Linked DNA regions of Homo sapiens: region 1 is linked to region 2. A link means that fine-mapping ties the variant in region 2 to the expression of a gene that starts in the linked region. Tissue or cell type: whole blood. Region 2 holds a variant in brackets; the other region holds the start of a gene. All regions are shown on one strand. Distances are between the middles of the regions.

Evidence for each region. PIP is the estimated chance that this variant, and not a neighbour inherited with it, causes the effect.
Region 1: it holds the start of CREG1, and the variant in region 2 is fine-mapped to the expression of CREG1 in whole blood (INTERVAL, PIP 0.97).

The regions. Positions count from the first base shown.
Region 1 is chr1:167,549,736-167,558,961 of GRCh38, forward strand. It overlaps CREG1 (cellular repressor of E1A stimulated genes 1), which reads right to left and starts at 4,027. Exons shown (of 4, transcript NM_003851.3): 1 at 3,653-4,027. The coding sequence starts at 4,006. RefSeq lists a silencer at 3,716-4,165.
Region 2 is chr1:167,524,431-167,533,541 of GRCh38, forward strand. It overlaps LOC107985224 (a long non-coding RNA gene), which reads right to left. Exons shown (of 2, transcript XR_001738279.2): 1 at 8,833-9,111; 2 at 5,109-5,825. It also overlaps the pseudogene AKR1D1P1. Among named protein-coding and RNA genes, the nearest start is that of CD247, 10 kb to the left of the region's middle. The variant T/G (reference allele first, on the strand shown) is at 4,817.

The DNA of each region.
Region 1 (9,226 bases), 25 kb after region 2:
GTGCAGTGGCACAATCATGGCTCATTGTGGCCTCAACCTCCAGGGCTCATGTGATCCTCCCATCTCATCCTCCTGAGTAGCTGGAACTATAGATGTGCATCACCACACCCGGCTAATATTTTTTTATTTTTTGTAGACATGGAGTTTCACTGTGTTGCCCTGGCTGGTCTCAAAATCCTAGACTCAAGTGATCCTCCCACCTCGGCCTTCCAAAGTGTTGGGATTACAGGCATGAGCCACCAAGCTGTCCTCTATCTGCATTTTATTATTTAGAAACAGAATCAAGCTCTGTCACCCAGGCTGGAGTGCAATGGCGTGATCTCAGCTCACTGCAACCTCTGCCTCCCAGGCTCAACTGATGCTCTCAACTCAGCCTCCCAAATAGCTGGGACTACGGTCGTACACCACCATACCCAGTTAATTTTTGTATTTTTAGTAGAGGTGGGTTTCACCATATTGGCCAGGCTGGTCTCAAACTCCTGACCTCAGGTGATCCGCTCACCTCGACCTCCCAAAGTGCTGGGATTACAGGCTGGAGCCTCCGCACCCGCCTCTATATGCATTTTAAACAAACATCCCAGGTAGCTCTTACGCAGCTATAGGCAGCTGGGTATTGTTAAAGGTTTCTGGCCAGAGGGCAATGCTGTGACAGGTATTTTTGTTAATCTATTTGGGTAGGCAAGGTGGATGGGGCAGACAGGAAGACTATGTAAGAGCTGTTCTAGTACTTTTAGGCATGAGATGATAAGCTTAAGGATGAGGTGGCAGGAATGAAGAGGAAGGGGCAAGGACAGAGGTAAAGAAGGCAACAAAAAACTGTCAGGACTTGGGAACTGAGGGATTTGGGGAGGCAGTGAGAACCAACTGGGTTTACTGAGAAAACAATAATTCCACTAACAGAAATGCAGAAGATCAAAAGCAGCTTGTTTCAGGAGGAAGAAGGACTGGATTTAAACATGTTGAATTTGAAGTGGTGGCAAAGTAACGAAGCAAAAATGAACAGCAAGCAGAAATATAGAGAACTTTGAAGAGGTCAGAAATGGACACACATCTGGAAGTGAGTCCTAGTAAGGACTAGAAGAGAATGTATACAACGAGAGTGTATACAATCTTCTGAGGATCGCTGCAGGGAACAAAAGAGTAGGAAACTGACTTTGAGGGATACTTATTTTAGTGGGTCAGAGAAAAAAAACCAAGAGTGACCAGAACAGAAAGGGGCACATCACAAGAAAAGAATGCCAAAATGGAAGGGAGGCTAATAGTAAGAGGTCTTGGTGCAAATAATCAAACCCCAAGATTTCCCTTCAGACTCACTGGCTCTGCAGCCAAACACGGTCCCACTATAAGCTAACATCAGCAACACTGTCCTACAGACATTTACTATACAAAAATGCCACAAAGAAAGAGACATACAAAAGAAACAGCCCAGTGGTAAGTACGTTTGAAGCTCACAACATATCTCTAAGTTACAGAGGACAGGTATTTTACACATGAGAAATGGTCCCAAACCTAGGTCTTTTTGTTCCTTCTGAACGATTTCACCCCCTGTCAATGAGAAGAAATGCAGAGCACCCTGGAGGTCAGGAGGAGGAAAAGAAAAAAGCAGAAACTTTGACCTGCTAATTGATGGAATCAAGTCAGACAAATTCTAATGTGGCCACTTCTTTTCACTGCCATCATGGAAACCTAAAGCCCTGGGTAGGTTCCTTGCCACTGCCCTGTCTATTTCTAGAAACATGAAAGACCTGGGCTAATGTCCTACCTGACAGCCATTAGCTGACTGGTCACAGGGTAAGTCCCTGCACCTCTGAGTCTGTGTTTCCTCACTTCCTAAATGGGGACAATAATACCAGCAACTCCCTAGTCACCTCACAAATTTAAATATGATTATGTATTGGTCAATCTCCCTCCTCCCCCATTAGAATCATCAGGGAGTGGTTTGTGGGGAGGCGGGAAGGGGTGTTGTCTTAAAATAAAATGTGCTTTCAATAAAATACCTTGGCATCCCATTTTTAAAGCCTTCTTAGGTGACTATGATTTGCAGTCAAAGTTGAGCACCACTGATGGAGTGGAGTGAGTTTGTTTTGAGCAAACGCCTAAAGGTGTGGAATGGGCTGGGAATAAGAAAATGGTGAACTGGGGTGTATCTGCCTTAGCTAAAAGAGGGCACTGCTTCTGTTTTTGCTCAAAGAGTGCAGGCCCACAGTGTCACTGGATCTTCCCATTTTTCAAGAAAAGTTAGAGATTTACATTTTAAAGTAAAATCTAAATTTTAAAATGTTGGTAACAAATTCAAATTTATTAAAAACAAAACAGAACTTTGTGTAGGCCAAACCGGTCTGTGGGACATATTCAGCTGATGGGCCACCAGCCTGTGATAGGTGGTTTGAAGAAAGATGAACCTGAGATGAAACTAGGGGTTTGCCCGCTGGCTTTAAACAAGTTACTTAACCTAGGTAGGCCTCAAGTTCTTCATCTGCAGAATGGGGTATATAATACCTACTTCAAAGAATTAATAGAAGAGACAACGAATGGAAGGCAAATGGAAAAGTGATTAATCAAGCATCAGTTTCTTGCATCCTGTCTTTATCAACAATGTTGTACTTTCAGAGTTGAACTCAAATGTGAGAGCTTTGTCAAAAAGACCCTCCATCAAATCAGGCTCCATTCCTGGACTCTGTGTGTCTCCGGCCTCCCAAGCTGGGTGTCTGTGACCCCATCCCTGAGACAGCAGAGATCCATCAGAGTTGTAAGTGTGGCCCTGCACCAGAAGGTGGGCAAAGGGCGAGGAAGAGATACACCTTCAATCAGCTCTGCATCTTACTGAGGAGCCACTATGCCTGTGGAGGCCTAAAGACTGCAGTAATCATTGTAATCGTCCATGATATTGTACGTTAGCGTCTTGCTGCAGGAGGGAAAAGCTTAATTCAGGAAGGGTAAGAGAGTGAGAAACCCTGAAGTCACATATTAAAGTGCTTAAGTACCTAACAATCTCTATGCCCTGTAAAACCTTTAAGAATAGGAGCCCAGGCAGGGCGCGGTGGTTCACGCCTGTAATCCCAGCACTTTGGGAGGCTGAGATGGGTGGATCACGTGAGGTCAGGAGTTTGAGACCAGCCTGGCCAACATGGTGAAACCCCGCCTCTACTAAAAATACAAAAATTAGCCGGGTGTGGTGGCACGCACCTGTAATCCCAGCTACTCGGTAGGCTGAGGCACGAGAATCGCTTGAACCTGGGAGGCAGAGGTTGCAGTAAGCTGAGATAGCGCCACTGCACTCCAGCCTGGGCCACAAAGTGAGATTCTGTCTCAAAGGGAAAAAAAAAAAAAAAGAGAATAGGAGCACAGTTAATAGAGACACTGGGCCCCAAGACGACTGAGAACCACTCACGGATGAGAAGTCCTCGGGCTGCTGGCAGAGAATTTACCCCAGGTGCGTGGCCCAGTGGCGGAGGCTTGTGGGAAATTCCTGGTACCCAGCTGCCCAACATCTGGGACGCTGCAACGCCCACCTACCTGCCTGCGCGGCAGAGAAGCAACAGCCGTTCGAGCCACGCTCCACTTCCCGGGAAGAATTCTGGGGAGAGTGAAGGCTCGCTCTGTGGCCGCCCCGCCCACAGCCCGCCTGGGGAAGCCGCGGGCCCCAGCTCACCTGCAGGTTGCTCACGGAGAGCTGCAGCGGGCTCAGGTAGAAATAGGGCACGCCGCTGCCCGCGCCCGGGGGCCCGTCGCTGAGCGAGAGGACGTCGGCGAAGGGCCGGCCGCGCACCGCCTCCAGCGTGGAGATGGTGGCCAGAGCGCCCCAGTCGGAGACGTGCGTCACGAAGCGGGCCACGCGCGCCGCGTCCTCGCGGGGTGGTAGCGGCGGCAGCCGGGAGGCCTCGTCCCAGTCCCCGTGGTCCCGGCCGCCGCGACCCCGCGCGGGCGACACGAGCAGCGCCAACAGCGTCGACGCCAGCAGGGCGGCGAGCAGTGCGCGCGCGGACCCGCGGGATAGCCCGGCCATGGCGGTGTCTCCAGGAAGAGTCCCGGGCCCCAAGACCTGCAGGGACCCAGCCGGAGCTCGGCGCGCCCAGGCCCCGCCCCCTCCGCGAGGCGCCAATCAGAGCTAAGCACAATGCAGGGGGCGGGGTCCCTCTGCAGCTCCGCAACCTGCAGGAGAAGGGATTGGTTCATCTGCATTCCAATCGCTCTGCCTGCCCTCTTTAAGGATTGTGAATTTGTCCTAAACGGGATATTTGTTTTGTTTTGTTTGACAGGCGGAAAAAGAAAGGCTTGAAGAAATCAAGCAACTTGCCCAAATCGTACTGCTAGGAAAAGACCAGCCTCTTTACACAGGCACACACCCCCTCCTTTTAATACCTTTGGAGATGAATATCTGGCATCTGAGAGGAAATGCTGCATTTTCTACCCATGCGCCTCTTTTCTGTTGAATTTACCATCAGCTCCAAAGAACAGCGAGGGTCCCAGCGTTGTAGAAGCCCAGACTCAGGCTCGTGTACCCCATGTGTAGCTGATGCCAAACACTGACATATAGGTGCTTGGAGATAAAAGTTTATTCGATTTGGCCAAAGCGAGAAGGCGGGAGGGCAAGATCTCTCAAATCCGCCCTAACAAAAAGAAGAAGCAGAGAGTGTTTATGCGGCCAGCGAGTCAGGGAGGGGGAGTTTCAGGGAATCGAGGGAAAAAGTCTGTGTTTCTTCAGTCTCAGATAATTCCTTGAACAATCAGACTTCTGGGCGACAGAAGCTGGCCTCAAAGTACTTCAAAGGACTTATTCCTCCTGCAAACTTTTTCGTAACCCTGAAGTTATTATCTCCTCCTGCTTGATAAAGAAACAGTACATCAGCAGTTTATGATTATGTTGTAGGAACAAGGGATATTGGGCAAAAAGAGAGTTGTCAACATGTGCAAGCAAGGGCCTGATCAGAATTTTCATTATTTCAGTCACTAACAAATGCTGGGGTGCTGAAATCTCAAGGGGCCCACTTACACTAGTAGTAAAGTTAGGCAGAAGCCCGAAAGTTCAAGACCTTTAAAAAACTTTTTATTTACTTATTTTAAAATTTTTAATTTTTGTGGGTACATAGTAGGTGTATACATTTATGGGGTACATGAGATATTTTGCTACAGGCATACAATGCATAATAGTCATATCAGGGTAAATGGGGTATCCATTGCCTCAAGCATTTATCCTTTGTGTTACAAACAATCCAATTATACTTTTAGTTATTTTAAATGTACACTTAAATTATTATTGGCTATAGTCACCCTGTTGTGCTATGAAATACTAGGTCTTATTCTAACTATTTTTTGTACCCATTAACCATCCCCACTCCTCCCCTGCAAGTCCCCCCACTACCCTTCCTGGCCTCTGGTAACCATCCCTCTACTCTCTGTCTCCATGAGTTCAATTGTTTCCATTTAGGCTCCCACAAATAAGTGAGGATGTGTGAAGTTTGTCTTTCTGTGCCTGGCTTATTTCACTTCACGTAATAACCTCCAGTTCCAACTATGTTGTTGCAAAGACAGACAGGATCCCATTCATTTTTTATGGCTGAATAGTACTCCATTGTGTATATATACCACATTTTCTTTATCCATTCATCTGATGATGGACACTTAGGTTGCTTCCAAATCTTAGCTGTTGTGAATAGTGCTGCAGTAAACACAGGAGTGCAGACATCTCTCAATATACTGATTTTCTTTCTTTTAGGGATATACCTAGCTGTGGGATTGCTGGATCATATGGTACCTCTATTTTTAATTTTTTGAGGAACTCCAAATTTTTTTCCAAAGCGGTTATTCTAATTTACATTCCCACCAACAGTGTACAAGGGTTTCCTTTTCCCCACATCCTCACCAACATTTGTTATTGCCCGTCAAGACCTTTTAAACTACTGGCCCAGGAGTCCCTCATATAGACGCACAAAGGGATTGTTAGTCTACTATCAATATCCCATGTACAAATTTGAACTTACCAGTTCAGGACCTGTTAAGACATTAAGCTTGGGGTCGGCGGTTTCATGAATTTATTGCCCCCGCTGCCCTTCCCTGCTCCATGTAAGGGACATTCCTTTTGCTTCTTCTAAGATGGCCTGTCTCATTCTCTCACGGGTGCTCCTGATTCTGCTATTCTGGAAACTGGTCAATAAGCTCATAGCACCTGGCCTCCATTCTTTATGACTTTAAGCTTTGGTCACGTCTTTTTGGAGCAAGTCTTAATCTTTTTGGCCTGGCCTCAAATTTCCACTGTAATTGTTGTTATAAAGACTGTATGGTGGTGTTAGTGCAAGAGTTTGTCATCTTGTAAAGCTGGCTCTGGCAGACACCTGGCCCTGTGAGGCTGAGTTGTGTAACAGAGGTGAGGTAATTTCACTCAGCTGCTGTTGGCCAGTCATGTGAGCAGCCGTGGGCAACAGGTGTGTGAGCCAAAGTCCCACCGCTACTTCCCTTCTCAAAACCAGCCTCCTAATATTCAGCCAACTTCTCAGGCTACACAGTAGGAATTGTGTATCAGAAGAAGCAAGATCATCTACTCTGAACAGGAGACTTCAGTGCCCTCTGGTGGCCAAATGATGTCACACACCCTGATTTCGACATTGGGGTAAGAAGGATCCTTAATCAAAGTTGGTTTGCTTTATAACAACTGAATTTGGAAGAACTTCAAAATAGATGGAAAACTAAGTGGGAGAAATTCAAAAGGAGGAAAATTGGGTTCATCATTTTAAAAACAAATGATTAATACAAATAGTTTGAGTACCTGCCGGTTATAAACATTTCATCCCTTACCTGTTAAGGAAAGAATACTCTCACATTTGGAGTTCTAATCTCAGGTCTGCCACTATCGTGCCATGTGACCATGGGATTTTATCTTACCTTTGGGCCTCAATTTTCTCATCTAAAATGAGGAGTTGGATTAGATGATATTAATATCTGATGCCTCTTCCAGCCCTATATCTTCTTTTTCTTTGTGGTTGTTTGTTTTTCTTTTTCTCTTTTTTTTTTTTTGAAACAAGGTCTTGCTCTGTCATCCAGGCTACACTGCAGTGGTGGCTCACGAGCTGTGAGCCTCAAAATCCTGGGCTCAAGTGATCCTCCCTCAAGTGATCCTCCCACCTCAGACTCCCATGTAGCTGGGACTAAAGGTGTATGCCACCACACCTGGCTAATTTTTAATTTTTTGTAGAGATGGGGTCTCATATGCTGCCCAGGCTGGTCTTGAACTTCTGGCCTCAATTGGTCCTCCCACCTCATTCTCCCAAAGTGCTGGGATTATAGGCATGAGCCACTGTGCCTGGCCTTATTTTTCTATTAACATGCAAAGTATGAGCCTTTTGTAAGTTTCACAATGTGAATTTTTTTGCAAAAAGATGAAAAAAATTTATTTATTGCTACATCATTTATTGCTGGCATACAAAATAGCAATAGACCCTATTACAGCTCCATTACAAAACAGGTGCCTAGAGCTTGGTCTCAGGCATCAGAGCAGGAGAATGAGGTCTACAAACCCTCTGGCTTTAAGCACGCCACCTCAGTATCTATCTTTGTGTTTGCTGTTCCCTATGCTCAAAATGCTCTTCCCTCAGCTGCTGGCATGGCTACCTCACTCCCATTGGGACCTCCACTTAGATGTCACTCCTCAGCAGTGACTCCTAGAGCACTCTTTCCGAGAGGCCTTCCCCAGTTACTCTCCCTCAGCCAACTCTATTTCTTTCATAGCAATCATTAATTCATCACAACAAAAATAAATACTATAATAACAGTATTTATTTTTTTAGCTACGTGTTTATTGTCTCCACTGGTAGAACGCGAGCTCCGGGAGAGCAGGAATGTTGTCTATCCTGTCCGCCTTCGTATTCCCAATGCTCAGAGTGGGCACTACATAAATATTTATTGAAAGACTACCTGACAGTGAATAATATCTGGCAAAATTCTTTGCACATAGAGCTGTATAAAATGATTAAAAAGTGAGGATGAGTAAATCAGCATAAGCTAACAACCAGGCGCTCCAGCTTTTGTTTAGCAAATCCTCCTCATTGGGATATTAGGGGAAGCCCTTAGCCAGGAGTGGCTGAAATAATCATCCCAGATCCTGCTGCTTCTCATCCTGACTTTATGTTTTTATGTGAACAACCTACACTGGTCCCCATCCCCACAGGCCCACTGTGGAATAGTTATCTTTTCCTTATGTCTAGGTTTGATCCTTATGAAGAACCCACCCTGCAAACTCCTTCTTTTACATGGTGTTGCCCTTGCTTATTTGTCTAGGTCACCACCGGTTCCTTCTAGGTTAGAAGCAGTGGCTTTGTCCTTTCCGTCTCCCAGCACCGAGCACAGATCCAGGCATCTAGCAGGTACCCATTACATGTTATTGACAAAAGAATTGTATCAGAACAGTCACACCAAGGGCAGAGGGTTCTCAGGCTGTCTGCCATAGCTCAGGCTTTAGTCTTTAAAGAATAGAAAACTTCTCTTTTGTGGTATGCATGCTTCAAATAGTAGATAGCTAGTGAAACAGTGAAGAGAGTTAGCTCTGGAGTTAGCCACTTAAGCATGAGCTTACATAGGATGATACTGAACCACAATTTCCCTGTCATTAAAATCATAGCTCCTCCTTCACTGGATTTTTATGGGGATTAAATGAGAGAATGCATTTAAAATATCCATTATAGTGCCTGGAACAGAATAGATGCTCAGTAGTTGTTAGCTATGTGTTAGTAATTGTTAGCTTTTTTCTCACTATTTCTTTTTTTTTTTTTTGAGACGGAGCCTTGCTTTGTCACCCAGGCTGGAGTGCAGTGGTGCAATCTTGGCTCACTGCAACCTCCACCTCCTGGGTTCAAGTGATTCTCCTGCCTCAGCCTCCCAAGTAGCTGGGATTACAGGCATGCCACCACGCCCAGCTGATTTTTGTATTTTCAGTAGAGATGGGGTTTCACTATATTGGCCAGGCTGGTCTCGAACTCGAACTCAGGTGATCCGCCCGTCTCGGCCTCCTGAACTGCTGGGATTACAGGTGTGAGCCACCATACCAGGCCTTTTCCCACTATTTCTGTTCCCACTTTCTACTCTAAAAATCTGTAGATTGCTTCATTTAATTTCTCTATAGATTTTTCACACTTTTCACTGTGGCCTCTGCAGGAAAAAAAAAAAGCCTCTTGAAAAAAATAACTTTATAAAATGTCTTGAAAGTCCCCAGGCAGCTATTGAGGAAGTACTTTCA
Region 2 (9,111 bases):
AAAGTAACACATAGCTGTCAAATGAATGAAAGATTACCAAAATCACTCATAGTAGGAAAAAATCGAAATTAAAATTACAATGAATACATATCAGATTGCTATCAGCTTCTCCACTGGGTTCCGTCTTCCTTTGCTTCCCAAGGAAATTGCCCCAGATATTCTCTTTTTTCTCTCCTGCATGTCAGTATTTTCCTCTAAATTGGATCATTCCTATCTGTATACAAGCATGTTATTTCTCTCATCTTAAAAAACTCAAAGACTTATATAGCATTTGCACATTGGAACTTGCCATATTTCTTATCGCTTTGGGAATCCAGTCTCCACACTAAGAAGCCTGTATTAACCCGCTGGAGACACGTGGCACAGCTGACAGCCAGCGCTGACTTCCAGACAAGTAAGGCTCTCTTACATCATCCAGACCCAGCTGAACCAACAGAGGACTGCAGCCACGTGGGTGACACCAGATGAGACCGGACAAAGCACTGCCTGAGTCCAGCCTAAGTTGCTGGCCGACAGAATCATGAACTAAAACGGTTGTCGTTCTAAGCCACTGAGTTTGGGAGGATTGTGACATACCAAATGATAACAAAATACTCAATATCCCCATATCAATCTCAGGAATTGCCCTAATTGGCCCACCTTGGGCCATATGCCCACTTTTTGGATAAACCAGTGCTTCCAGGGGGTCAAGACGAGATTGGAGCTGGAAAACTCTGGTTTACAGCCTTAGCAGAATCATTCGTAATAGAAGAAATGAGGGGAAAGGATTCTGGGCATATATAGAACAATGACTGTCCACGACAGCCAGCCTTGCCCTGGTGTGTGCAGTGGGATGGGGTTGGCAACTAGAACGAGGCTCACGCTTTGCAGAGGGGCACACAGGCAAGGCCCAGAGCTGGAGCTGAGAGGAAGCTGGATAGAACATGATGACCTGCAGCTGTGAGTTTCTCATGGTGGAAGCTCTGGCTCTTCCTCATGATTGAATCCCTGCTTCCTGATATATTTTGGTGGGTGGGTAGATGGATAGATGGATAGATGCATGCATGCATGGTTGGATGGATGGATGGTTGGGCGACTCAGTGAGTGAGTGGCTAGATGGATGAATGAGTAGGAGGGTGGCTGGTAACATTCAGGATGGCAGGAAGTCCAATACTATGTAGGAGGATGCCCCAACTTCCTCTCAGGAAGAGCACAGTAAGGGAAACCCAGAAGCTGGTGAATGGAGATTTTAGCTGGAAAAGTTGTCATTGTCATTACAGAGAAGGGCCCCTGCCATTGAGGGGCTGACTGGAAAATTGGGTAGCGTAAAGAAAATGTAAAGACAAGGTATGGGGGAAGGGACTGGGGCTCAGGACTGGGACTGAACTGATGGAAGCCAAATGGCTACAGCTACAAGCAGGAACAATTTAAAGTGTAGGGCCAAGCAGAATATAAGCAGCCATGTGGTAAGAGGAAGATGCTGGTGCTAAATAAATTCTCATAATTCTCCAAATAAGTAATGCTGGTGAAGTAATTATTTTAACTTGTCCAGCATCTTTCCCCTCCCTTTTTTGGAAGCAACCTCGTTTCCCTTGGAGGGGAGCGCATATTCCCTCAACGGAGTGGGATGTATGCCGCTGGCTGGCTCCCGGTGTGGGCATGGACCCTGTGACAGCCAATCAGGCATCATATCCTTCTGTCTACAAAGACCGGCTCAGGGAGGGCCCATGAGAGCCATTTTCAAGATTCTTGCTGGAACTCCAGGGAAAGGGGCACCATTTTCCCGTAGAGAATGGTGACCGTGGGGTAGTGCAGCCTGCAGCAGTGGAGGCCGTCTATTTCCCACCGGGAGAGAGCCTGACGGGATGAGGCCAACAAGAGGGAAGCAGAGCCCAGAGACAGGAAGAGAAGGATGGTTCCCATTTTGCCCCCTTGTCAGTCACAGGAGCCAATAAATACCCCTTTTTGCTCTTTGGGTCGATTCATCAGAATTTAGTGGGAAAGCTTTGTCTGCACCTAGAGGAGAGGTTGTTCTGAGGCGCCAACGTGCTTCAGGTGAGCTGGGTCTCTTCCCACAACCACTTGCTCCCAAGGGGCCCTCCCAGGATTCAGATTTCCCTGGGGTTCTTTCTCTACAACAGCTCCTTCTAGGCAACAGGGACTCGGCACTGAGCCTCGCAATTCCCTGGCTCCTGATCATCAGAGAAAACAGCACAAAAAAGAGGATTGGTCTCTGTCCCTTGGGGTGTCCAGAGACAGCCTCTCCCAAGACCCCTGTGAGGGGAAGCACTTCCCTAGCCCTTGAGACCCCAGCATGTTGACCCAGGCCCTGTGCCTCCCTTCAGCTGACTGGTCCAGGGCTGGCAAGCAGCTGGAGGCCCACACAGGCTATTCCCTCACAAAGTGCATTTCTGCTGGCAGGATCCCAGCCAAACACCTCGGTGGAGCCTTGTCTCTTCAGCCTCAACCCGAGGTTTCCCCAGTCATAGCCTGTGTATGAGCCCCTCCTTTTGTGACCGCAAGCCTTGGCTCACAGGAATCCTTTTGCCTGAAGGCCCTTCTCTCCTTTCCCCAACCCAGGAGCTTGGTCTCGGACAAGGTGTAAATATCCCTTCACTGTGAAGCCTGGCTCACACCTACTAAACCTATTAGCTATGTCCATCGCATATTGTTTAGTGCTGTGTTAAAAAACACTTGTCACTTTTTGCCTTGGTTATTTGTTTACACAGATGTTCACACAATGATAATCCAAGCTCTTCAAGAGCATGGACGGAGTTTTATTCATTTTGTAATCTTTAGTGTCCAGTACATAGTTGGTATTTAATTTGAGAGAGAGAGAGAGAGAAAGAAAGAGAGAGAGAGAGAGACCAGACCATTCCTGACCCGAAAACCAGATGGGGTAGAGAGCAGCAGGAAACAAAATTTAAATGCTCTCTGGGAAGTTCAGTCCCCGGGGTTAGAGACCATGTCTTAGGCAATTTGAATGGCCAGAACTGAATGCAGTGCCTGGAACATAAAAGGTGCTCCGTTAAAATTTACTGAAGGAATGAGGGGGCATGACCCCAACTACTGTTATCGAGAGGGGAATGAGGGGAATGGGTTTGCAGAAAGGGCCAAGCATCCCTTTAGTGACAATCCCAGGTAGAATCTGCCTTCTAAGATGCTACATTTGGGCCAAGCATGGCCCCCTCCCACCACCACCTGCACACAGATCCACATCTTATGGCTCTGATGGACTCCTTGGGCTCCATGACTCTTTCATGTCTGACCAAAGCTGGAGGAGAGGGCAGAGCCTAAAGAGCCTAAAGGAGCCCCCACCGGCTGGGAGTAGAGGCTGAGGAAACTGACATATCAGTAACTGCTGGTCCTTTTTTTTTTTTTTTTTTTTTTTTTTTTTGAGACAGGGTCTTACTCTGTCACCCCAGGCTGGAGTGCAGTGGCATGATCACAGCTCACTGCAGCCTCGACCTCCTGGGCTCAAACGATCCTTCCACCTCAGCTTCCTGAGTAGCTAGGATCACAGGTGTGTACTGCAACACCCAGCTAACTTTTTCTGCTGTATTTTTTGTAAAGACATGGTTTCACCATGTTGCCTGGGCTGGTCTTGAACTCTTGAGCTCCAGTGATCGACCTGCCTCAGCCTTCCAAAGCGCTGGGATTACAGGTGTGAGCCACCACGCCCAGCACCAGTCTTTATCTGAGCTGAATTTGGCTGACTTTGAGTGTGGCCCAGGATATGACTGCATATAGAATGTAATTTCAGTGGATTTCTGATCCCTAAAACACACCCTCTCCACTCACCTACTAATATCCACCCAAAAATACATGCTTAGAGAGTCACTCTTTTGGCTAAAATTATAATAATGGTGTGTGGGAGCTGGCTGATATCAGCACATGAGAGCCAACTGTTAAATTTTCAGGAATTTTCCCAGTTGGTTGTTAAATCATTGGTAACTTGAAATTGGCTGTGGTGGGGGCAGACATTATACATGAAAGTTCATTCTGTATGCCCCAGCACACCACTGACTAAACACTTTTCTTCCATTCAGAAGCAAATGCCCTTGAGAGATATATAAAGCCTTATCAGTTATTTATACCTTTGTGTTAAATACTGAGTCACAGACCATTGTCCCAGTTAGATGGGGACTGGAAATCATTAATCTAACCTTTATTTAGTAAATGAGAGAATTGAGACCCAGAAAGGTAACATGACTTACTGAAGATATAGAATTAGCTAGTTTCAGAGTCCAGACTGCAACTGAAGTGCTCTGATTCTCAGTAAACGGGATGCCATAATAGACATTATATGCTTATATTTACACCCAGCATCCCTTCCTCCCCCCAACCCCCATATTAACCCTGGCCAGACCATGCAGTACAAGTGGAGCTAACCCCTAGCCTGTCTGCGCTCAGGGATGGTCACATGACTAAACCTGCTCCATTAGAGTATTCTGTCTTCCTCGCCATTGTAACTGATTAGGGGAAGAACATATTAATGCAGGGATGTTTTTGTAGGCCTGGCATCAAGACCCCCATCTTCTAGCAATAGTATCAATTTTGCTTTGAAGAGTCAACTATTCTCCACGATTATAATCTCTTTTTTTTTTTTTTTAATGGAATCTCTCTCTGTCGCCCAGGCTGGAGTGCAGTGGTGCAATCTCGGCTCACTGCAATCTCCACCTCCCAGGTTCAAGCAATTCTCTGCCTCAGCCTCCTGAGTAGCTGGGATTACAGGTGCCTGCCACCACTCCCAGCTAATTTTTATATTTTTAGTAGAGACGGGGTTTCATCATATTGGTCAGGCTGGTCTCGAACTCCTGACTTCAGGTGATCTGCC[T/G]GCCTTGGCCTCCCAAAGTGCTGGGATTACAGGCGTGAGCCACCGTGCCGGCCGATTATAATCGCTTGATGAGGCTATCAGGTAATGTCAATCAGCTGCTTTCTCCCCGGACTTTAAATCTTAACAGAATGAAACAAGACCTGGACATAACCCTTGTTTGTTTCTCCTTCTTGGATCCATCCCAGAAGTTGCTCATATTCTGTGGCTACACGAACACTGTTCCAGCCAATTTCCTTTTTTGCTTAAGCTATCCAGAGCTGATTTTTGTTGCTTGCAACCAAAGGATCCTGACTTACACAGTAGAATTTTTGGAAGTTGTATTAGCTTTCTATTGCTGCATAACAAACTATCACAAATGTAGTGGCTTAAAACAACACATTTATGATCTTACAGTAATGTAGGTCAGAAGTCCTGATATAGCATGGCTGAGTTCTCTGCTCAGGTACTTACAAGGCTGAAATCAGTGTTGGCTGGGGCTGCAGTTCTCATTTGAGGCTCAGGGTCTTCTTCCAGGCTCATTGGTTGTTGGTAAATTTTATTTCCTCTCAGTTATAGGAGTGAGTTCCTGTTTTCCTGCTAATGATTGGCCAGGGAATGCTCTCAGGTCCCAGAAAACACCTGCAGTTCCTTGCCAGGTGGCCCCCATAGGCAGTTCACAATGTGGATGTTTGCTTGCTTCTGGCCCAAACACAGAGCATCTCTCTGACTTAGTCTTCTGGAACCAGCTGGAGAAAACTCTGATTTTAGAGGATATGCCTGATCAGGTCAGGCCCACCCAGAACACTCTCCCTTTGCCACATAAAACCGCAAAAGCACAGGAGTGATAGCTCATCGTATTCACAGGTTCTTCTTACGATCACGAAGATTGTACCATGGCGTGTCAATCTTGGAGGCCACCTTAGGATCCCATTTCTCACAGAAATGCTGTTCAAAAAGATGCTCCCTTCTTCCTCTGGGAAGATCAGACACGCCTGGTGTTCATCTTTTTCACCAGATGGAAGAAGCTTGCCTGGGAATGAAGCCAACACAGAGAACAGCTGAGCAAGAGACATAAAGACAGGCAGAGCATTTGCTGCATTGTTGAGAACCTGGATCGTGCCATGCCTAGCTGCCTGTCCCAGGGGCTTTTCCATCTCACGAGCCAATAGCTTTTTTCTTAAGTTATTTGACTTTGATTCTGCAACTTGGAATTGAAATGGTCTTGAGTATTACAGATGCTGAAATTGCATGGCTATTAAAGACATGTTTGCAAACTTCACAGCTGGCACAAATCCACTTTGATGGGAGATTTACCTAGTGCGCCCTACCCCTCAAAAGACTAATTGCCCTTTAAAAAATTAACCGCACAATTTTGGGGCTTTTTTTTAGTGAGACACTAAGGAGGAAAAACACACCTAATGTCCAAACACTCCAGAAAAAAAAAAATGAAAGTAAAAGGCTGCACAAAGATTTTCTATCAAAAGCCACTGTGAAAGATGGCAAAAAAAATAAGCTGGGGACATGGGTAAGATTAGAGAGATACTATGAATGGATAAGATGAATTGCAGTTGACCCTTGAATGACTCAGGAGTTAGGGCTGCTGAACCCCATGAAGTAAAAAAAATCTGCGTATAACTTTTGATTCTCCAAAAACTTAACTACTAATAGCCTACTGTTGACCAGAAGCCTTACTAACAACATAGTCAACTAACACCTATTTTGTATGCTGTATGTATTATATACTGTGTTCTAACAGGAGAGTAAGCTAAAGCAAGGAGAATGTTATTAAGAATATCATAAGTACGAGAAAATGCATTTACTATTTATTAAGTGGAAGTGGATCATCATGAAGGTCTTTCTCTTTTTTTTTTTTTTTTTTTTGAGACATAGTCTCACTCTGTTGCCCAGGCTGGAATGCAGTGGAGTGATCTCAGTTCACTGCAACCTCCTCCTCCCTGGTTCAAGCAATTCTCCTGCCTCAGCCTCCTGAGTAGCTGGGATTACAGGTGCCCACGACCATGCCCCGCTAATTTTTTGTATTTGTAGTAGAGACGGAGGTTTCACCATGTTGGCCAGGTTGGTCTCAAACTCCTGAATTCAGGTCATCCTCCTGCCTCAGCCTCCCAAAGTGCTGGGATTATAGGCATGAGCCACTGTGCCTGGCCATCACAAAGGTCTTCATCCTCATTGTCTTCACATTGAGTAGGCTGAGGAGAAGGAAGAGGAGGGTTGCTCTTGCCATCTCAGGGGTGGCACAGGTAGAAGAAAATCCATGCATAAGTGGACCCATGCAGTTCAAACTCATGTTGCTCAAGGGTCAACTATAGTTATATATAACCTACTAAATATTGCTATTGATAGCCAAGCCCCTTTAATTGGAAAAAGAACCTTTTTTGCTTTAATGGGGGTGTCTTACATTTGTGTGTCATTTTCACATATTAATATATTGTATTTTTTAAATTTATTTTTGAGACAGGGTTTTACTGTCACTCAGGCTAGAGTGCAGTGGTGCAGTCATAGCTCACTGCAGCCTTAAATTCCTGGGGCCAAGCTACCCTGTCGTCTCAGCCACTTGAGTAGCTGGGACTACGGGTGCACACACCACAATGCCCGGCCAATGTTTTAATTTTTTTTTAGTAGAGATAGGGGTCTCCCTGTGTTGCCCAGGCTGGTCTTGAACTCCTGGCCTTCACGGATCCTCCCACCTCGGCCTTCCAAAGTGCTGAGATTACAGATATGAGCCACCATGCCCAGCCATATTGTCTTTTTAATCTTGATGACTCAGTAAGGTTGTCAATATTGGTGTACCGTTTCCATTTTATTTATTTATTTATTTAAATTAAAAAAAAAAAATTTTTGAGATGGAGTTTTGCTCTTGTTGCCCAGGCTGGAGTGCAATGCCGCGATCTCGGCTCACTGCAACCTCCGCCTCCCAGGTCCAAGCGATTCTCCTGCCTCAGCCTCCTAAGTAGCCGGAATTACAGGCCCCCCACACCACAACCGGCTAATTTTTTGTATTTTTAGTAGAGATGGGGTTTCACCATGTTGGCCAGGCTGGTCTCAAACTCCGGCTGCCCCAGCTTCCCAAAGTGCTGGGATTACAAGAGTTAGCCACCATGCCCAGCCAGTTTCCATTTTGTAGTTTAGGAAACTTAAAATTAAGTTATTTTTCTAAGGTCACAAAGCTGGTAGAATCAAAACTAAAACTCAAGTTTTCTGGGTGCTGGTTCACAGTAGTGGAAGAACATGAGCTTTAGAACAGGTTAGACCTAGGTTCAAATTCCAAATTCCATCTACTAGCTGGCTGTATGTTTTGAACAAGTTAATAAATATCTGAAATCTTTTGTCCCACATTGGCTAACAATGCCTACTGTACTGTCTTGTTGGAGGAATGAGTAAGATGATGTAGGTTATGTGCCTAGTATATAGAAGGTGTTGGGAAATGTTACATCACAGAGAGGAGGAGAGGACTGTAAAATGTTTGCTGGCAACTGCTCTGGGAAAAATCCTTCCAGGAATGATTGGAACCCAGCATGGGGAATGGGGTCACTGTCTTGGTGGAAAGGGTGGGAGATGAAGAGGAGGAAAGAGGAGGTGGTGTGGACAAGCCCTCCTATGGGGAGGTGAGGGAGGCCCCACATTCCCAGAATAGGGACCTGTGTGCTTCCTCTTTTTATCCCTCCAAAGTTCTTGAGCACTAGGTCAGAATTTAATGCACCTGCCTCTCATTCGTTATGAATAGACAGTTGCAATTCCTGGGACTGTTGGAGGTGATGGGTTTATTCTCAGAAATCTTAAAAAGGCATTTTCTGGGCACCTGAGCAAACACAAAATTATCCTGTGGAATGAGCAAGCTTCGAACGCTGAGACCCTGGGGCATCTGAAGGACCAGCTAATAACCATGTGCTAAGCAGTGTGTATTCCTAAGTTCCTCAGCTCTGCTTTTTAAAACCCCCCACCCCCCGTGCTCTGACTTGACCAAATGGTCTTCCCTCAGTGGGGTGTGTGGAAAGCAGCTGCTATGGGAATGCACAAACCTGGGATCTGCTCTCAGCTTTGTCCTTTACTTGCTGTGTGACTTTGACCAAATCACTTCCCCTCTCTGGGCCTGGGTGTCCTCAGCTATACAATGAAGAAGCTGAACTAGATGGTCTCCACAAGATGTCTTCCAGCTGGAAATTAAATTTTCGTATAATGATTCCTGCTTCTCCAGTGCCCCTTTCTCTTTCAGCTCCACTAGCTGTTACCTCCCCACAGGGTTGTGCTGTGTGCTGCCTCTGGGCCACATCCCAGGCATGCAGTGATGGCCCATGTCC